Linked DNA regions of Homo sapiens: region 1 is linked to region 2. Evidence: fine-mapped expression QTL. Tissue or cell type: whole blood. Region 2 holds a variant in brackets; the other region holds the start of a gene. All regions are shown on one strand. Distances are between the middles of the regions.

What was found. PIP is the estimated chance that this variant, and not a neighbour inherited with it, causes the effect.
Region 1: it holds the start of RCL1, and the variant in region 2 is fine-mapped to the expression of RCL1 in whole blood (TOPMed, PIP above 0.99). The same link has a PIP of 0.9 or more in B cells, CD4 T cells and blood mononuclear cells.

Annotation. Positions count from the first base shown.
Region 1 is chr9:4,789,754-4,797,861 of GRCh38, reverse strand. RCL1 (RNA terminal phosphate cyclase like 1) reads right to left here and starts at 4,918. Exons shown (of 9, transcript NM_005772.5): 1 at 4,635-4,918. The coding sequence starts at 4,770. RefSeq lists enhancers at 4,168-4,667, 4,742-4,791, 5,612-5,661 and a silencer at 4,872-5,231.
Region 2 is chr9:4,856,955-4,865,062 of GRCh38, reverse strand. It overlaps RCL1 (RNA terminal phosphate cyclase like 1), which reads right to left. Exons shown (of 9, transcript NM_005772.5): 9 at 3,997-4,938. The coding sequence ends at 4,788. LOC124902113 (a long non-coding RNA gene) reads right to left here. Exons shown (of 2, transcript XR_007061402.1): 2 at 7,988-8,108. Among named protein-coding and RNA genes, the nearest start is that of MIR101-2, 11 kb to the right of the region's middle. The variant C/T (reference allele first, on the strand shown) is at 4,083.

The DNA of each region.
Region 1 (8,108 bases), 67 kb after region 2:
TCAGTATTTACAACCCCTTTGCAATGGAAGGGGACAGTTTTAAGAGATTCAATGATTTGCCTGAAGTCACAGAGTTTGATCTGTGTCTCATTTGTTTCTAAATCCTTGTGTAGTCTTCTTGGTGTCACATGCTGCTATTCCTAATCATTAGGGATACAGGGAAAAGAAAAGGTTTAATTACTACTGTCAAGTAGGCCAGGGTTTTTCTACATCAGCACTACTGACATTTTGAATGGATAATTCTTTGTTGTGGGAGGCTGTCCTGTAGGATATTTAGCAGCACCCTTGGATTCTAACCACTAGAGGCCAGTAGCATTCCCCTCTGCCAAGCTGTGACAACCAAAAATGTCTCCAAATGCTCCCAAATGTCCCCCACTGAACAAAAGTGCCCCTGGTTGAAAACTACTGTGCTTTACATATAACATAGAAATACGTGGAAACAACCACCTAGGAGAAGAACTTTACAGAAGGCATAATTCTCTTCAAATATCTGAAAAATTTCCATATAGAAGCAGGAACGGATTTGGCATGCCAGGGAGCAGACCTATACCCAGTGGGTTCAAGCTACATAATAATAAAATCAGCTAACATTTATTCTTCCTATGTGCCAGGCACTGTTCAGTACACTTTGAAGTATTATTTCATTTAGTCCTCACAATAACCCTGTGAAGTCAGTAGTACTGGCCCCACTTTACAGGTGAAAAAGTTGAGGCTCAGAAGAGAATAGTTAAAATAATTTGCCCAAGGACCAAGAGCTAATAGCGAAAGGCAGAACTCGTACTCAAACCAAGGTCCAATACTGACCCCAAGCTCTTAATTGCCAAGTATTATGACCATGACAAATTAAGGATTTTACCTCAGTAAAATAAAGAAAATAAAGAACTTTTTGACTTAAAAACTGTTTCTTTCATATGGAGATTTCTCAAAGAACTAAAAATAGAACTACCATATGGCCCAGCAATTCCACTACTGGGTATCTACCCAGAGGAAAAGACATCATTATACAAAAAAGGCACCTGTACTTGTATGTTTATTGCAGCACTATTCACAATACCAAAGTGATGGAACTAACCTAAGTGTCCACCAATGGTTGACTAGATAAAGAAAATGTGGTATATATACACTATGGAATACTACACAGCCATAAAAAAGAATGAAATCAGGCTGGGCATGGTTATTCATGCCTGTAATCCCAGCAATTTGGAAGGCTGAGGCAGGACGACTGCTTGAGTCCAGGAGTTCAAGACCAGCCTCGGCAACATAGACAACACCCCATCTCTACAAAAAAAATTTTAAAAATCAACTAGATGCTGTGGTACACATCTGTAGTTCCAGCTACTCAGGAAGCTAACGTGAGAGGATCACCTGAGCCCAAGAGGTTGAGGCTACAGTGAGCCATGATCACACCACTGCACTCATGACAGAGTGAGACTCTGTCTCAAAAAAAAGAATGAAATAATGTCCTTTGCAACAACATGGAGCTAGAGGCCATTATCCTAAGAGAACTAATTCAGAAACAGAAAATCAAATACTCCATGTTCTTACTTATAAGTGGGAGCTGAACAATGGATACACATGGACTTAAACATGGAAATAACAAACATTGGGGACTGGAAAAGGAGGAAGATTGAGGGAGATTGAAAAATTACCTATTGGGTACGATGTTCACTATTTGGATAATGGGTACACCAGAAGCCCAGTCCCCACCAGTAGGCAATATATCCATGTAACAAACATGCACATGTACCCCCGACTCTAAAATAAAATTTCTTTAAAAAAAGAACTGTTTATTTTGCAAACAATGATTTCCGCAGCCACCATCTCAATCCTATCTGTCCAGATCAGGTCCAGAAAACCTGCCTTCCTTCGTAACTTTCAGGGAAGTGTCTGCTCTGAACTCCACTGAGCCCCTGTACAATACTCAATCCTTCCTACTTCAAGTTACTCAAACTTAGTAACATCCTACTTACATGACAAGCTCCATGAGAACAGGGGCAACCAGCTTCTCACATATATTACACTCACCCCCATACAAAGCCTTGCACATACTGTGGCTCAATAAACACTTTCTAAATAAATGTTCCTGAGGCCGAAAGCCTCCCATACTATCCCTACCCTCCAAAGCCCACACCATGAGGGATGTTTTAAGCAAGCACCTTGAAGAGATGTGATTCTTGCATTAGAACTGAAGATTTTATTGGATATGCTCTGAGTTTTTTCCAACTCTGAGAATCTGAGTTAGGAAAAGTCAGAAAGGGACAGATGACGGGCAACATAGGCTTCCGGCTACATCTTCAATCAAGCTACCAAGGACTCCCTTGATTATGACCAGAAATCATGTGTCAGGGACTACATCTATTTATGCGTGCACGTATATGTATATACACTTACATGTATGTGTATACATATACACATATACATGTATATCTGCAAATGCATATCTATCTCTCTGTTCCCTCTGTAAGAAATTAAGCAGACAGGCTGGGCGCAGCGGCTCACACCTGTAATCCCAGCACTCTGGGAGGCCAAGGCAGGCGGATCACCTGAGGTCAGCAGTTTCATACAGCCTGGCCAACATGGTGAAACCCCATCTCTACTAAAAATACTCTACTAAAAATTAGCTGGGCATGGTGGCAGGCACCTGTAATCCCAGCTACGAGGGAGGCTGAGGCAGGAGAATTGCAGGAACCCAGGAGGCGGAGGTTGCAGTGAGCCGAGATCGCACCACGGCACTCCAGCCTGGGAGACAGAGTAAGACTCTGTCTCAAAAAAAAAGAAAGAAATTAAGCAGACAAACATCTACAAGGTTTCTGAGGCCCTGAAGCCAGCGCAAGGATGTACAAATAACTAGGAGTCTCTTTCTTCCCCTGGTATATGAACGGGGTAAGGCAAATAATGCTCTACAGTAATGTTCCCCATAAAATACCAGCACACCTGCCAAGCAGTTCTACCTCCCTCAGGTATCAGCGTCTGACACCCTTTCAAGAAAGTGCCAAGTGGCCAAGCCCTGTTCTTGGAAGAAACGGGAGCTCATATGTGTGAGATGCTTTGAAGAGATGCTCACATACAGTGGAGGGGGAGAAGGAGAAGCATACTTTGGAACATTAAATATTAAATTGGAGGCCACCTGTCAATAGAAAAACTCTAAATAGAACTAGATTCATTTTAGAGAACCCAGGTTTCCAGGCTATACTTCCATTTCTCTGGAAAAAAAAAAAAAAGTTATGCCTACTTTTATACAAAGTAGAAGTCCATCTTCTTACCATATCCAGCTAGTGGCAAGTTCTCTGAGCTAACCTGAGGGTAAAGTGGATGGAGAGCTGGCTGAGAATGCCACACAGCAATCAAGCAAACACTTTGCCCAAGGGTCAAACTAAGTGGAACACTTGTTGACGGAAAAGTCGTGGCATAAACCATTTGTGGTCTCTCCCTAACTTTCTCAGTGTTTTTGAGCAGTAGAGAGAGGACAGGAACCACCAACACAAGTTTTTCCTACCATCACTAGGTTTCTCACCACTGTACCTGGGATATTCTGCTTCTTTCCTTCCTAACCTATCTCCGTCAATAGCATGGCATCTTCTGCCCTTTATGTGCAGCCAATCACCACCCAAGAGAGGCAGAGATCTAACTATCCAAAAAATGCATTCAGACAGATAAAACAAGAGCCAGTGCAAAATGAAACACATCAGCGCCGCTCAGGAAGCTTCCAGGACCAACCACAAACACTCTTTTTCAATTTACAGACAGGTTTTTTCCTTTTTCACCTGACTACTGACTCGCCCAACTTGGGATAACCACCAGTCAGAAGCTTTTAAATGCATGTATCTCATGCCAGGGGGCCAGGTGTAAACCAAGGCCAGTTGAAAACCGGCGCCATTTAATGAGATGTGGGTTTAAATGGGCCTATTTCTTTTTAACCTACCATTGCAGAGCAAGAAGTGAGCTTGGAAGCCTGCAGTTTAGCGATTGTCACCGACCCCTTTTCTAAAGTCAAGGCAATTAGGCCCATGACTGTTAAAAGTCTATCTCAAAGCTCCTGTCCTGCGCACATCAATCACAGTCACGGCTGAAAACAAACACAGAATTTTAAAAATTTCTTTATCCACACCCAAGGACAAGTGTGAGGGCAGCCGAGAAATCATGGCGACAGGAACAGCCGGTGTCCAAGGGGGCAGCTGCTTCTGAGAACTGCTTTGAGACAGGGCAGAGAACCAACCCAAGGTACTTTTCTCTCCCAATGTCTCTCCCCCGGCTCATTCACCATATTTCGGTCCAACAAACTGTTTTTCTCCTTTGAGAGGTTTATGGCGAGGGCAAGAGGGGCCGAAGGGACGCGAAGGGGCGACGCCAGGGATTTGTTGCTACACGTAAAGCTGGAAAACGTGCAGCTGTTTACTACCAGCGCCCCGGAGACGCCGAGCGCAGCTTGCAGCTGAGCGCTCCCCTCGGGCCCCGACCCCGCCTCCCCCACTGTGCCTGCCCCTCCGGCTTTGGAGGCGACGCGCCACCTGCCCTCCCCGACGCGCTCGCCGGACGCCGAGCCGCCCAACCAACACCGCGCGGGCCCCCACGGCATCAGCTCGGTCTCCCCTCAGCCCCCGCGCCCACGCCGCGCGCCGCCCACACCAAGTTACCTCGGAGGCCCGGGTTGTCGTCTCTGGCCCGAATCTTTCGGATTTTGACGGGGCGCCCGCTCAGGGTAGACAGGACCAGACGTTGGCGCAAGAAGTTGCACCCTGCGTAGCTGAGGGAGTGCGCCTGAGTCGCCATGTGCGCGCTCTCCGAAGAGACGTGAGCAGCCCGAGAGCGGCGACTTCGGACAGACGCGGGACTCGTGACTCCGATGGTGGTGGTGGCGGCGACACCGACGGCGGCGGCTCGGGCTGCCTCCAGCAGCCCAGACGCGTCCACGTGGTTTGGAACAGGAAGACGGAGAGACTAGACACCGGGTCAGAGGGGAGCGGGGCGGAGCCAGTGGCCACCTCCCCGCCTCCCCGCCCGACCGGGGCGGCCCCCGCTTCGGGCCACGCCGCTATTGGCCCGCGCCGGATCAGGGCGGTGCCCGCGCCGCGCCTCCATTGGCTTCCGCTGAAGCTGGGCGGTGCCCAAGCCGCGCTGCCATTGGTCCGTAGTGGAGCTGGGCGGTGCCCGGGCCCTGGCAACAGCGCGCGGCTGGAGGGAACGCGGGAGGATGGCCAGGGAACCCCGGCGCGGGAGTTGCCAGTCGGGGCAGTCTCCTCTGTGTACCTCCTGGCGTGGTAGCAAGGGGAGATGGCGGACTGAGATTGATGCCTACGACGTGCCGGATTCTTAGCATTACTACTTACGGCAACTACTGGGGTGAAGATGCTATTATCTACCCCTCCTCTTTCTTACTAAGAGAGACAACAAGGGTTGGTGCACTCACCCTATCGCAGGGATGCCGCTCAGCGCACTGCCGGCGCAGTCCCGCAGCTCCATGCTGTAACCCTGCAAGGTAGAGCCATCCTGTCCTACTCATGGATAAAGGCTCGAGGAATATTGCAAAGCTGACAGTGGCAGCCTATACTGAGACCCGAATCCTCCCACAGCAGGCCGTTGCTTATTTTATTGAGACACCTCTTTGCCCCTTTCTCACGGGTCCCTTCGTTTATCGTCATTGCGTTTCATGGCAATTCAGGCCCTCCTACCTCGCATGCTTCAAGATAGATAGTTGTAATAACTTCACACACACACACGCGCGCAATGCTTTTTCCCTCTTTCCCGTCCTCCTCCAATCCTGCACAAGAAAATCTTCCCAAACGTTGGATTATTTCACTTCTCTACTCAAAAACCTTCCAAAATGTACAGTTAACTAACAAATGACTACACAAGTAGAAGTCCGATATCATAGTAATGTGGGTTTGTAGCCATTCCTGGACAACACTCACCAAACCATGAGTCCCAGAATGCACGGGGGTTCGCGGGGGGAAGGGGGGCGGGGTATGATAGTGTCTGAAAGCGGTGGGAGTTTAAGATTAAGGGATGTAGCTAGCCTTATGTAGACAACAGTGTGTTATAAAGTGGAGTGGAGTGGCATGCTCATGACTCACTGCAGCCTCAACTTCCCGAGTTCTAGTAATCCTCCAACCTCAGCCTCCCCATTAGCTGGAACTACAGGTGTGCACCACCATGCTCAGCTAATTTTTGTATTTTGTATAGACATGGGTTTTTGCCATGTTACCCAGGCTGGTCTCAAACTTCTAACCTCAAGCGATTGGCCCACCTTGGCCTCACAAGTGTGAGCCACCACTCCCAGCCTTTAATCCATTTTTCTTTGATTTTTGTAAATGGCAAGAGATAGAGATCTAGTTTCACTCTTTTGCATATGGATATCCAATTTTCTCAGCATCATTTATTGAAGAGACTGTCCTTTCCCCAGAGTATGTTCTTGGCAACTTTGTCGAAAATGAGTTTACCGTAGCTGTGTGGATTTATCTCTGCGTTCTCCGCTCTGTTCTACTGATCTATGTGTCTGTTTTTATGCCAGTACCATGCCATTTTGTTTACTCTAGCTCTGTAGTATAATTTGAAGTCAGGTAATGTGATTCCTCCAGTTTTGTTCTTTTTGCTTAGGACAGGTTTGGCTATTCTGGGTCTTTTGTGGTTCCATATAATTTTTTTAATTTTTAATTTTTGTAGGTAGATGGTACATGTATATATGAGGTACGGGAGAAGTTTTGATACAGGCATGCAATGTGTGATAATCACATCCTGAAGGATAGGGTACTCATCCCCTCATGCATTTTATTCTTTGTGTTATTATACAAACAAAACAATTATACTGTTTTAGTTATTTTTAAATGAAAATTAAATTATTGTTGACTACAGACACCTTGTTGTGCTATCAAATAGTAGATCTTATTCTTTCTAATTTTTGTACACATTTATTATCCCCACCTGCCCCCCAACATCCCCACCCCCTCTATGTTTTCCAGTCTCTAGTAACCATCCTTCTACTCTCTATTTCCATGAGTTAAATTGTTTTGATTGTTTGATCCCACAAATAGGTGAGAACATGTGATGTTTTTCTTTCTGTGCCTGGCTTATTTCACTTAACATAATGATCTCCAGTTTCATCCATGTTGTTGCAAATGACAGGATTTCATTCTTTTTTATGGCTGAATAATACTATATTGTGTATATGTATCACATTTTCTTTATCCATTCATCTGTTGATGGACACTTTGACTGTTTTCAAATTTTAGCTATTGTGAAGAGTGCTGCAACAAACATGGGAGTGCAGATATTTCTTTGATATGCTGATTTCCTTTCTTTTGGGTATACACGCAGCAGTGGGATTGCTGAATCATATGGTAGCTCTATTTTTAGTTTTTTGAGGCACCTCCAAACTGTTCTCCATAGTGGTTGCACGAATTTACATTCCCACCAACAGTGTACAAGGGTTCCATTTTCTCCACATCCTCACCAGTATTTGTTATCGCCTGTCTTTTGAATATAAGCCATCTTAACTGGGATGAGATGATATCTCAAAATGAGTAGTTTGCAGATATGTTTTCTCACTCTTTGGGTTGTCTCTTCAGTTTGTTGATTGTTTCCTTTGCTGTGCAGAAGCTTTTTAACTTGATATGATCCCATTTTTGCTTTGGTTGCGTATGCTTGTGGGTTATTAATCAAGAAATTTTTGCCTAACCAATGTCCTAGAGATTTTCCCCAATATTTTCTGTAGCCATTTCATAGTTTGAGGTCTTAGATATAAGTCTTTAATCCATTTTGATTTGGTTTTTGTACACGGCAAGAGAAAGCAGTCTAGTTTTACTCTTCTGCATATGGATATCCAGGTCTCCCAGCACCATTTATTGAAGAGATTGTTTTTTCCCCAGTGTATGTTATTGGCACCTTTATTGAAAATGAGTTCACTGTAGGGTTATAGATTTGTTTTTGGGTTCTCTATTCTGTTCCACTGGTCCATTTGTCTGTTTTTATGCGAGTACCATGCCATTTTGGTTACTATAGTATTTTTTTTTAATTTTTCTTTTTTTTTTTTTTTTTTTTTGAGACAGAGTCTCACTCTGTCACCCAGGCTGGAGTGCAGTGGCATGATCTCAGCTCACTGCAACCTCCACCTC
Region 2 (8,108 bases):
CCATTTCAAACACTAACAGACTTCCTTGAAGATTACAAAGAACTTCAGGATGGTTCACCATCCCAGATGTAGCAGGAAGCAGCAGCCGACCTTACCTTTGGGGCATCATTTTCTCCCAAGACGGAGACCAGTTGCCTAGATGGCCCCCAGGGAGTCCGGCAGCAGCCCAAGTGCTCTATCGCAGCCATAGTAACAGGGTATTCAGGGAACAGACACACGGAGGCACATATCTTTTAGCCAGGCTCGTTCATTATCTTTTGTCTTTAAGTTGGCCTCTGATTTCTATATCAGTTGAAATATGTAATGTCCCAAATTGTGGCAGAAATAAATTAACAAATTAAGCAATCTGAGGATTTTTGGACACAAGGCTCTTCAGAGGGGTGGGAATGAGGAGGAAACAGGAATAAAGAATGTCCCGAGCCCTCAGAGACACTTGAATACCTGAAATATCTAGGATGTTTTAAAACAGGTGCCGATCCCAGGCCCGTGCTCAGGGTACCTGACAGGTACGGGCCAAATGCGACCAGGAAGGAGGGCAGCCCCACACCCGGGCAAACCCTGACAACCGGACAGCTTTCATTTGCTGGAGTAAAGGAGTGACGTGGCTCGGCCTTTGTTAGATGCCAAACACTGATAAAGCGTTCCACTCAAATGGCCTCTTAGATGTGGCCAAGAAAAGTACAAAAAGGCCCAGCTTGCCTGTTGACAATCCCATTAAACTTTCAGTCACTTCTAAAGAACAGGCCAGCACCATCTGAACATGGAAACCCAAGTGCCAACTACTTCTCGTCCACTCTGGAGTAAGGGACAATGGAGATCCTGGGTGGGCACAGGCCCTGCAGTGCTGCATTCCCACTCATCACAGACTAAAATTGCCACCTGTACACCCCAGGTCTGACACTACCAACTGGGAAGGCCAACAGAACCCCACATTCTACTCCAAAGACCCTGGAACGAAGGCACAGTAAATCCACTTATTTAGCTCACTCTGATTCCGCCTCCCCCAGCCGAACTCCACCCTCACCTCAGGCACGGCCAAAACTTTGGAAATTGTTTCACTGATGCTCCAGTGTCCCCAACTACCTTTGATTTCATCAACTGCTTCCAGCCTTCTGTACAACATCCTGCCTACTTCCTTTGCCTCCCTCTAGCACCTTCAACTCTTCTACTCAGGGCCCATAAAACTAAGTGCCAGGATTGGTCTCACCTAGCAGCCTCCCAACACAAAGACCTAACAGGAAATGGCCACCTCATGGTCTTCTGCCGTTTGGTGTGAGGACAGGCACCATGGTACAACTTGAATTTTTGTTTTTATAATTTGGGTCTGTGATTAGCTATCCTTTACCACTTTTTTGGAAATGATTTTTTAAAATAAAGAAAACCCAGAAGGGAAAGCATCAGGATAAATAGCTAATGCACCCTGGGCTTAATACCTAGGTGATGGGTGGATGGGTGCAGGAAACCACCATGGCACATGTTTATCTATGTAACAAACCTGCACGTCCTGCACAGGTATCCCAGAACTTAAAATTAAATTGGAAAAACAAAAACAAAAACACAAAAACTCCAGCCTGGACAACATCTCTAAAAAATTTTTTTTTAATTAGCTGGGTACAGTGGCTCATGCCTATAGTCCCAGCTACTTGGGAAGCTGAGGCAAGAGGATCACTTGAGCACAGGAGTTTGAGGTTACAGTGAGCTAGGACTGCACCACTGCACTCTAGCCTGGGTGAGACCCTGACTCAAAAAAGAATTTAATTTTTTTTTAAAAGAACAAAACCCCTGAGGCTTAGCTGCCCAGTGAGGGCAATGTGTAATTCAGCAGGTCCTCCTGTTGCTCCTTCCCAATCAACATGTCATGTTGCAACACACTGGCTGCCTCCCACCCGTTAGCAACTGTTTTGACCACTATGGTAAAATCATCATGATGGAGGCTGGCTGGAGTCTGCATGGAATGTAGTTAAAGGATGTTGAAAGACAGAAGCAGGGCCTTGTAGATGACAAGAAGGCAAAGAATGATACTGCCATGACCCCCAGCAAGTTCACAGGTTTATCTGCCTAAAAAACTCACACTCCCATTGAACAACTGCTGCCGTTAACTCAGAATGGTCTATCTCTATCAGCAGAAAGGAACAGACAGACCAAGATAGAAAACCAAGCCCCAAAACGCTGGAATCTCTCGCTTCAAGCTACCCCAGCAAGTAAGTGGACCGACCAGGAGCTAAGCTAGAAAAAAGGAAGAGAATGCAGGATTTGAATAGTCTCTAAGATGTCCCAGCAAACAGCAAAGGATGACTTCTTCCCGAAGGAATGGTACATTGCTTCTCTTGGGAATTTGAGAAGGGGCTGGGAGTGAGCTGTTTAAATAAATATTAAATTTGTCCTCTTTTTGGCAATACCATCACCATTCCTGCAAGATGTTCCAACTCCAGAAGCAGCTTTGCCAAATGCAGGGCTGGAACCACACCAGACACTTCCAGGTTTGCAGCAGACAGTAGCACATATCCCCTCTACTGCTTATAGTAATCTGCCTGGCCTCTATGTGCCACCCTACATTGACCAACAGCACCATTTCCAGAGCTTGTACAAGGAACGGCAGGTATGTGATATTCCAAAAGCAATGTGCCCCTTAGTTCTGGATTTGAGCTCTATATGGGCAGATCTGAGTTCGAACGTCAGCGGCACTAGGTAAGACTGCAGTATGTGTGGCAGGCAAAATTCTTAGATGGTAATCCACGATTCCCAGCCCCTGGTTATTTAAACACAAATCTAGTATTGCTGTTGTCAGTTGACCTTAAGATAGGGAGATAATCCAGGTAGGACTATTGTGCTATGAGTCATTTTTAAGCAATGTTTTCTCCAGCTGGTATCAAACGGAAGGTGAATCCAAAGTACCAGGATTCCATGCACCATTGCCAGCTTGAAGGTAGGGGAGACCAAGTGAACAGAAATACGGACAGTGCCTGTCTATATGCTAAGAGTTGTCCACAGCTCACAGCCAGCAAGAAAAATGGGAAGAAAACAGGTGACTTCAGTCCTACAACCCTGAATTCTGTCGACAACCTGAATGAGCTGGAAGCACATTCTTTCCCAGAGCCTTCAGATGAGAGCTGAGCCCAGCCCAGGTGACACACACCCTGATATCAGCCTTATGAGACTCTAAGCAGAGAATCCAACCAAGCCCTGCCTGGATATCTGACCTTCAGAACTGTGAAATGATAAAGAGGTATTGTTTTAAGCTACTAAGTTTGTGAGCATTTGTTATATACCAAGAGCATATTACCAATACAGTATGTAAAGCTCTCAGTAGAATGTCATAGTCCAGAATGTCCTGGCCTTCCTCAAGGTTAACTCTCTACCTCCACATCCTCCCACACCCCTAGACATCAAAGCACAGCCTTTCTCTAGCCCCTTTTCACTTAAAAAGCAAAAGGTACCGAGAGGGAGTGATGAGGCAAAGTTCACCCCCGGGGGAGGACACCATTTGGAATTCAAGTAGAAAGAAGTACATCTTTCCCCTTCTACAAACTTCAAGCCTATGCACATATCAAATGCAGACTCTATTAGCTGGCAGGGGAAATCTGCCATGGATCCTGGTATTCCTGCATATTCTTGCTGGGCAGGCTCTTGCCTGGGTTCTTTCTCAAAACTGTGTTTGCAGGAGGCAGTCTTAAGGGATGAAGTAATCTCTGCACGTGAAACAACAGGCTTGCCATGAAATAGGTGGAGTCCCCAAACATAACAAGTTCTTTGGCTATGATGCAAACTTGTAACATGCATAGCATCTACCTGGGCCCCTCCATGTCCACTGTGAGACAGGGGAAACCAATATAAACACGAAGTTCATGCTGCTTGCTATGCTGAGTAAAGTTCTTTATCTCTGACCCAGGATCCTCATGTCTTCTGGTAGCATCAATAAAAAAGTAATAATCTAACTTATTAGCTTGCAAGGGTAAAATCCCAGACCCTGACTCTATTACACTTATTACACTTAGATCCTTAAATGAGGAGATTTAATGTCTTTACATTATACATTTCAAAGGAACAAAACACCCTTTATGAATTTTCTCATGGAGATAGCA[C/T]TTACATCACAGAGCTATTGTGAAAATAAAATAAGAATGTACAGCACACCTGGAATATAAAAACATCCCAATAACTTACTTGGAGCCCCGCAGCCATCCATCCCTCACATATAAATACAATGAACCAGATGAAGATCCGTGTCCGTGTCCATGACAGCAATCCATTCAGAAGATCAAAGATAAATAGTCTAATACACCAATTTCTGACATTTGCTTAGCACTGCAGGACTCATGAAGAGCTGCCACTCATATTATCTCATTTAATCCCTACAACAAAAACCAAGGCTCAAGGAGGTGAGTCCTTGCAGAAAGAACAGTAACAGACTCCACAGGTTTGCAAAACAGCCATATGACAGAGGGCTGAGGAAGCCTATGATAGTAGGCTGAGGAAGCACAGCTGAACTGCAGCTACGAGACTGTTCTAGCAGCACGACTGTGGCCTGAAGGCACATTCTTCCTCCAGGTAAGGCAAGGGAGCTCTCATGGTGACTGGGCCCCTCCTGGGCAATGGCAATGCCACTGGAGAAACAGCTGGAAACCATATGCTACAGGGATGTCTTTTATTTGTATATTGATATTTCTTCACAGAAAATTAAGCAAGTGGCTATTCTGTCCTGGATTAATCCATTTGGACTTGGTCCCATTGGTGTCCGTGGCAGCTTCTGCTTTGTCTGTAGGCATTGGGGCCTTATCTTGTGATGGTTATCACTTGAGGGTCTTGCTAAGGTTGGAGAAACCAATGCCAACACAGGTCATCAGCACTTTATCCCCACCCTTGAGTTCTTCACCACATGGCTTGGTTTCAATTTTAAACATAATCTGGAAAAAGCTCTTCAAATGCCGCAAAAATTCTATCCTAAAAAGGAAAAAAATAAATAAATAAATAAAAAGAAATTCATTCAAAAAAAAATTATCCTCTACCACCTAGAATCCAAGGTTTTAATCTCCCAGACCTAGAGGGCTGAAGTTAAGACCTTCTCATCGAATCTGATTAAATAGTACTTCCTTTCAGCCAGCCAGTTTCCAAAGAAGATTTAGATAGTTTGCAGAGATACACGCAATACAGCAAGATAAATTAAACTGGGGGGGGAAAGGTTAGAAGTTCGTACGTGACACATAAGTTATTTAGTTCAGACCTAGCAGAAAATGGACAGAAATATGGTGATGACTCTTTTTTTTATAAGAGATGGGGTCTCACTATGTTGCCCAAACTGGCCTCAAGCTCCTGGGCTCAAGCAATCCTCCACCTCAGCCTCCTGACTACCTGGGACTATGGGTGTCCCAATGTACCTGGCTTAGGCAATGATTTTTGAGTGGCCTATACAAAGACAGAAACACCTATTTCCATGATTCACAGCACCATGACATTCAAAACAAGCACAATGACTACTGATGCTGAAACAGACAAGTCCCTCCCTTCATTCTCCAATAATACCCTCGCATTTACTTAATATGTATCAAGTGCCTACTGTATGCTAGGCACTGTTCTTGGTGCTGGGAATATTGCACTCAAATGAAAAAAAATAAAAATAAAAATCCTTCCCTCAGGAGGATTTCAATCTAGTGGTATAGATAGAGACTAGATAAATAAATTAATTTTATTCCTGAAAAGTGCTATGTAATGTAAACAAAGCAAACAACACAGACGGGGAAGAACTGTGGGTATGACAGTATTTGTACATATTTGGCAGAAGGCAATATTAAATAAGGTGGCCGGGGAAGTGTGCACAGTAAACACAACAAGGACAATGGCATCACAGGGCGATGGCATCAGTCCAAGAGTACCTTGGGAAGAGCAATTCTGTGGATGAACCGCAGTGCAGGTGCACAGGCTTCTAATGGTCTCGCCTGGCAGACCTAGCGTCACCCCAGCTAGCCTGACCATAAGACTCACCTGAACAGTTCATTAAATACACAGGTTCCTGAAGGTTATGGTGAACTTGCAACTGGTAGGAAATGTCCATATGGAAGAGCCCAGAATCACAGTCCACACACAAAGCTGATCCCTCCCTACCCTCCACCAGGCCCTGTACTCCCCAGTTCATAGAGGCCAGAAATCTATGTTGTTAACAAGAATCCCTGGCAAGTCTCATTGGGCAAGGTTAGGGAATACTGGCTTAGTGAAGAATGATGGCTTGCACATCTATAGTGAAGTATTACAAAAACCTCGCACTGTACTGTCTCCCAATCAAACCAGCCAAACTCTCCACTCTGGCCAGATGGTTCTCAATCTCGACTGCACATGGAATAACCTAAGGAGCTTTAAAAACACTGACGCTAAACACATAGATCAATGGAAGAGAATTGAGAGTCAAGAAATAAACCACACAGTTATGGCTAATTTCCTCAATGAGGAAAGCATAATCATTGCAACAAATGATGCTGGAACAACTGGATATCCACAGGTGAAAGAATGAAGCTGGGCCCCTTCCTCACATCACACACAAAACTTAACCCAAAAGAGATCAAAGTCATAGCTGTAAGAGCTAAAACTATAAAGTTCACTAAAGAAAATACAGGAGTAAATATTCATTACCTTGGGCTAGGCAACGGTTTCTTAACCATTTCTTAAATACAACACCAAAAGGATGGCAATAAGAGACAAAATAAATAAATTGGACTTCATCAAAATTAAAATACTTTGTGCATCAAAGTGCACCATCAAGAAAGTAAAAAAACAACCTACAGGATTGGAGAAAAGATCTGCAAGTCATATATCTGATAAAGGTCAGGCATCTCAACTATATAAACAACTCTTACAACTCAATAATAAAAAGACAAATAACCTAATTAAACGATGGGAGAGTACAGGCATGGTACCTCACACCTGTAATCCCAACAGTTTGGGAGGCCAAGGCAGGCAAATTGCTTGGGGCCTGGAATTCAAGACCAGTCTATTACGACCCCCATCTCTACAAAAAAATTGTTTTAAAATTAGCCAGGCATGATGGCAGGAGCCTGTAGTCCTAGCTACTCGAGCTATGATTGCACCACTGCACTCCCACCTGGGCAACAGAGTAAGACTCACTGAAAAAAAAAAAAAAAAAAAGTGGGAGAGCTAAACGGATATTTCCTCACAAATATCCAATAAGGACATGAAAAGATGCTCAACATCACTGGTTATTAGGGAAGTGAAAATCAAAACCACTGTGAAATATCACTTCATATCCAATAGGATGGCTATAATAAAAAGACATACAATAACAAAAGTGTGGGTGAGGAGGCAGAACCACTAGAACCCTCATACACTGCTGGTGGGAATGTAAAACGGTACAGCCGCTGTGGAAAACAACCTGGCAGTTCCTCAAAATGTTAACCGGGGAGTTACCATAGGATACGGTAATTCTACTCTTAGGAATATGTACAAGAGAAATGAAAACATACACCCACACAAAAACTTGCACGCAAATATTCATAATGGCATTATTCACAAGAGTCAAAACGTAGAAGCAACCCAAATGTCTACCAACTGATGAATGCATAAAATGTGGTATATCCATTCAATGGAAGATTTTTTTTTTTCTGCCATAAAAAAGGAACAAAGCACTGATACGTGCTACATCAATGAACCCTGAAAACATTATGCTAAGTGAAAGAATCCAGTCACAAAGGACCAGATAGTGTATGATTCTATCTACACAATATGAAAAAGCCACAACAGGCAAATCTATCACAGAGGCAGAAAGGAGATTCGTGGTTGCCTGGGGCTGGGGAGAGTGGGAAGAATGGGAGGCACTGTGAGCTGGCACAGGGTTTCTTTCTGGGGGTAGTAAAAATGTGCTAAAATTAGATTGTGGCTGTGGTTACACAAGTCTGTGAATACACTAAAAAACCTTTAAACTGTGTACTTAAAATGGGTAAATTGTGTCATATGTGAATTGGTTCTCAATAAAGCTTTTTAAAATAAAGAAATCAATACATATTTGCCATGCTATAAAACAACTGATCCTGGTTCTCACCCCTACTCGGTGTATACCAAACTACATATAAAGCCTGCCTTGATGAATTTCCCTCCCATCCCCATCC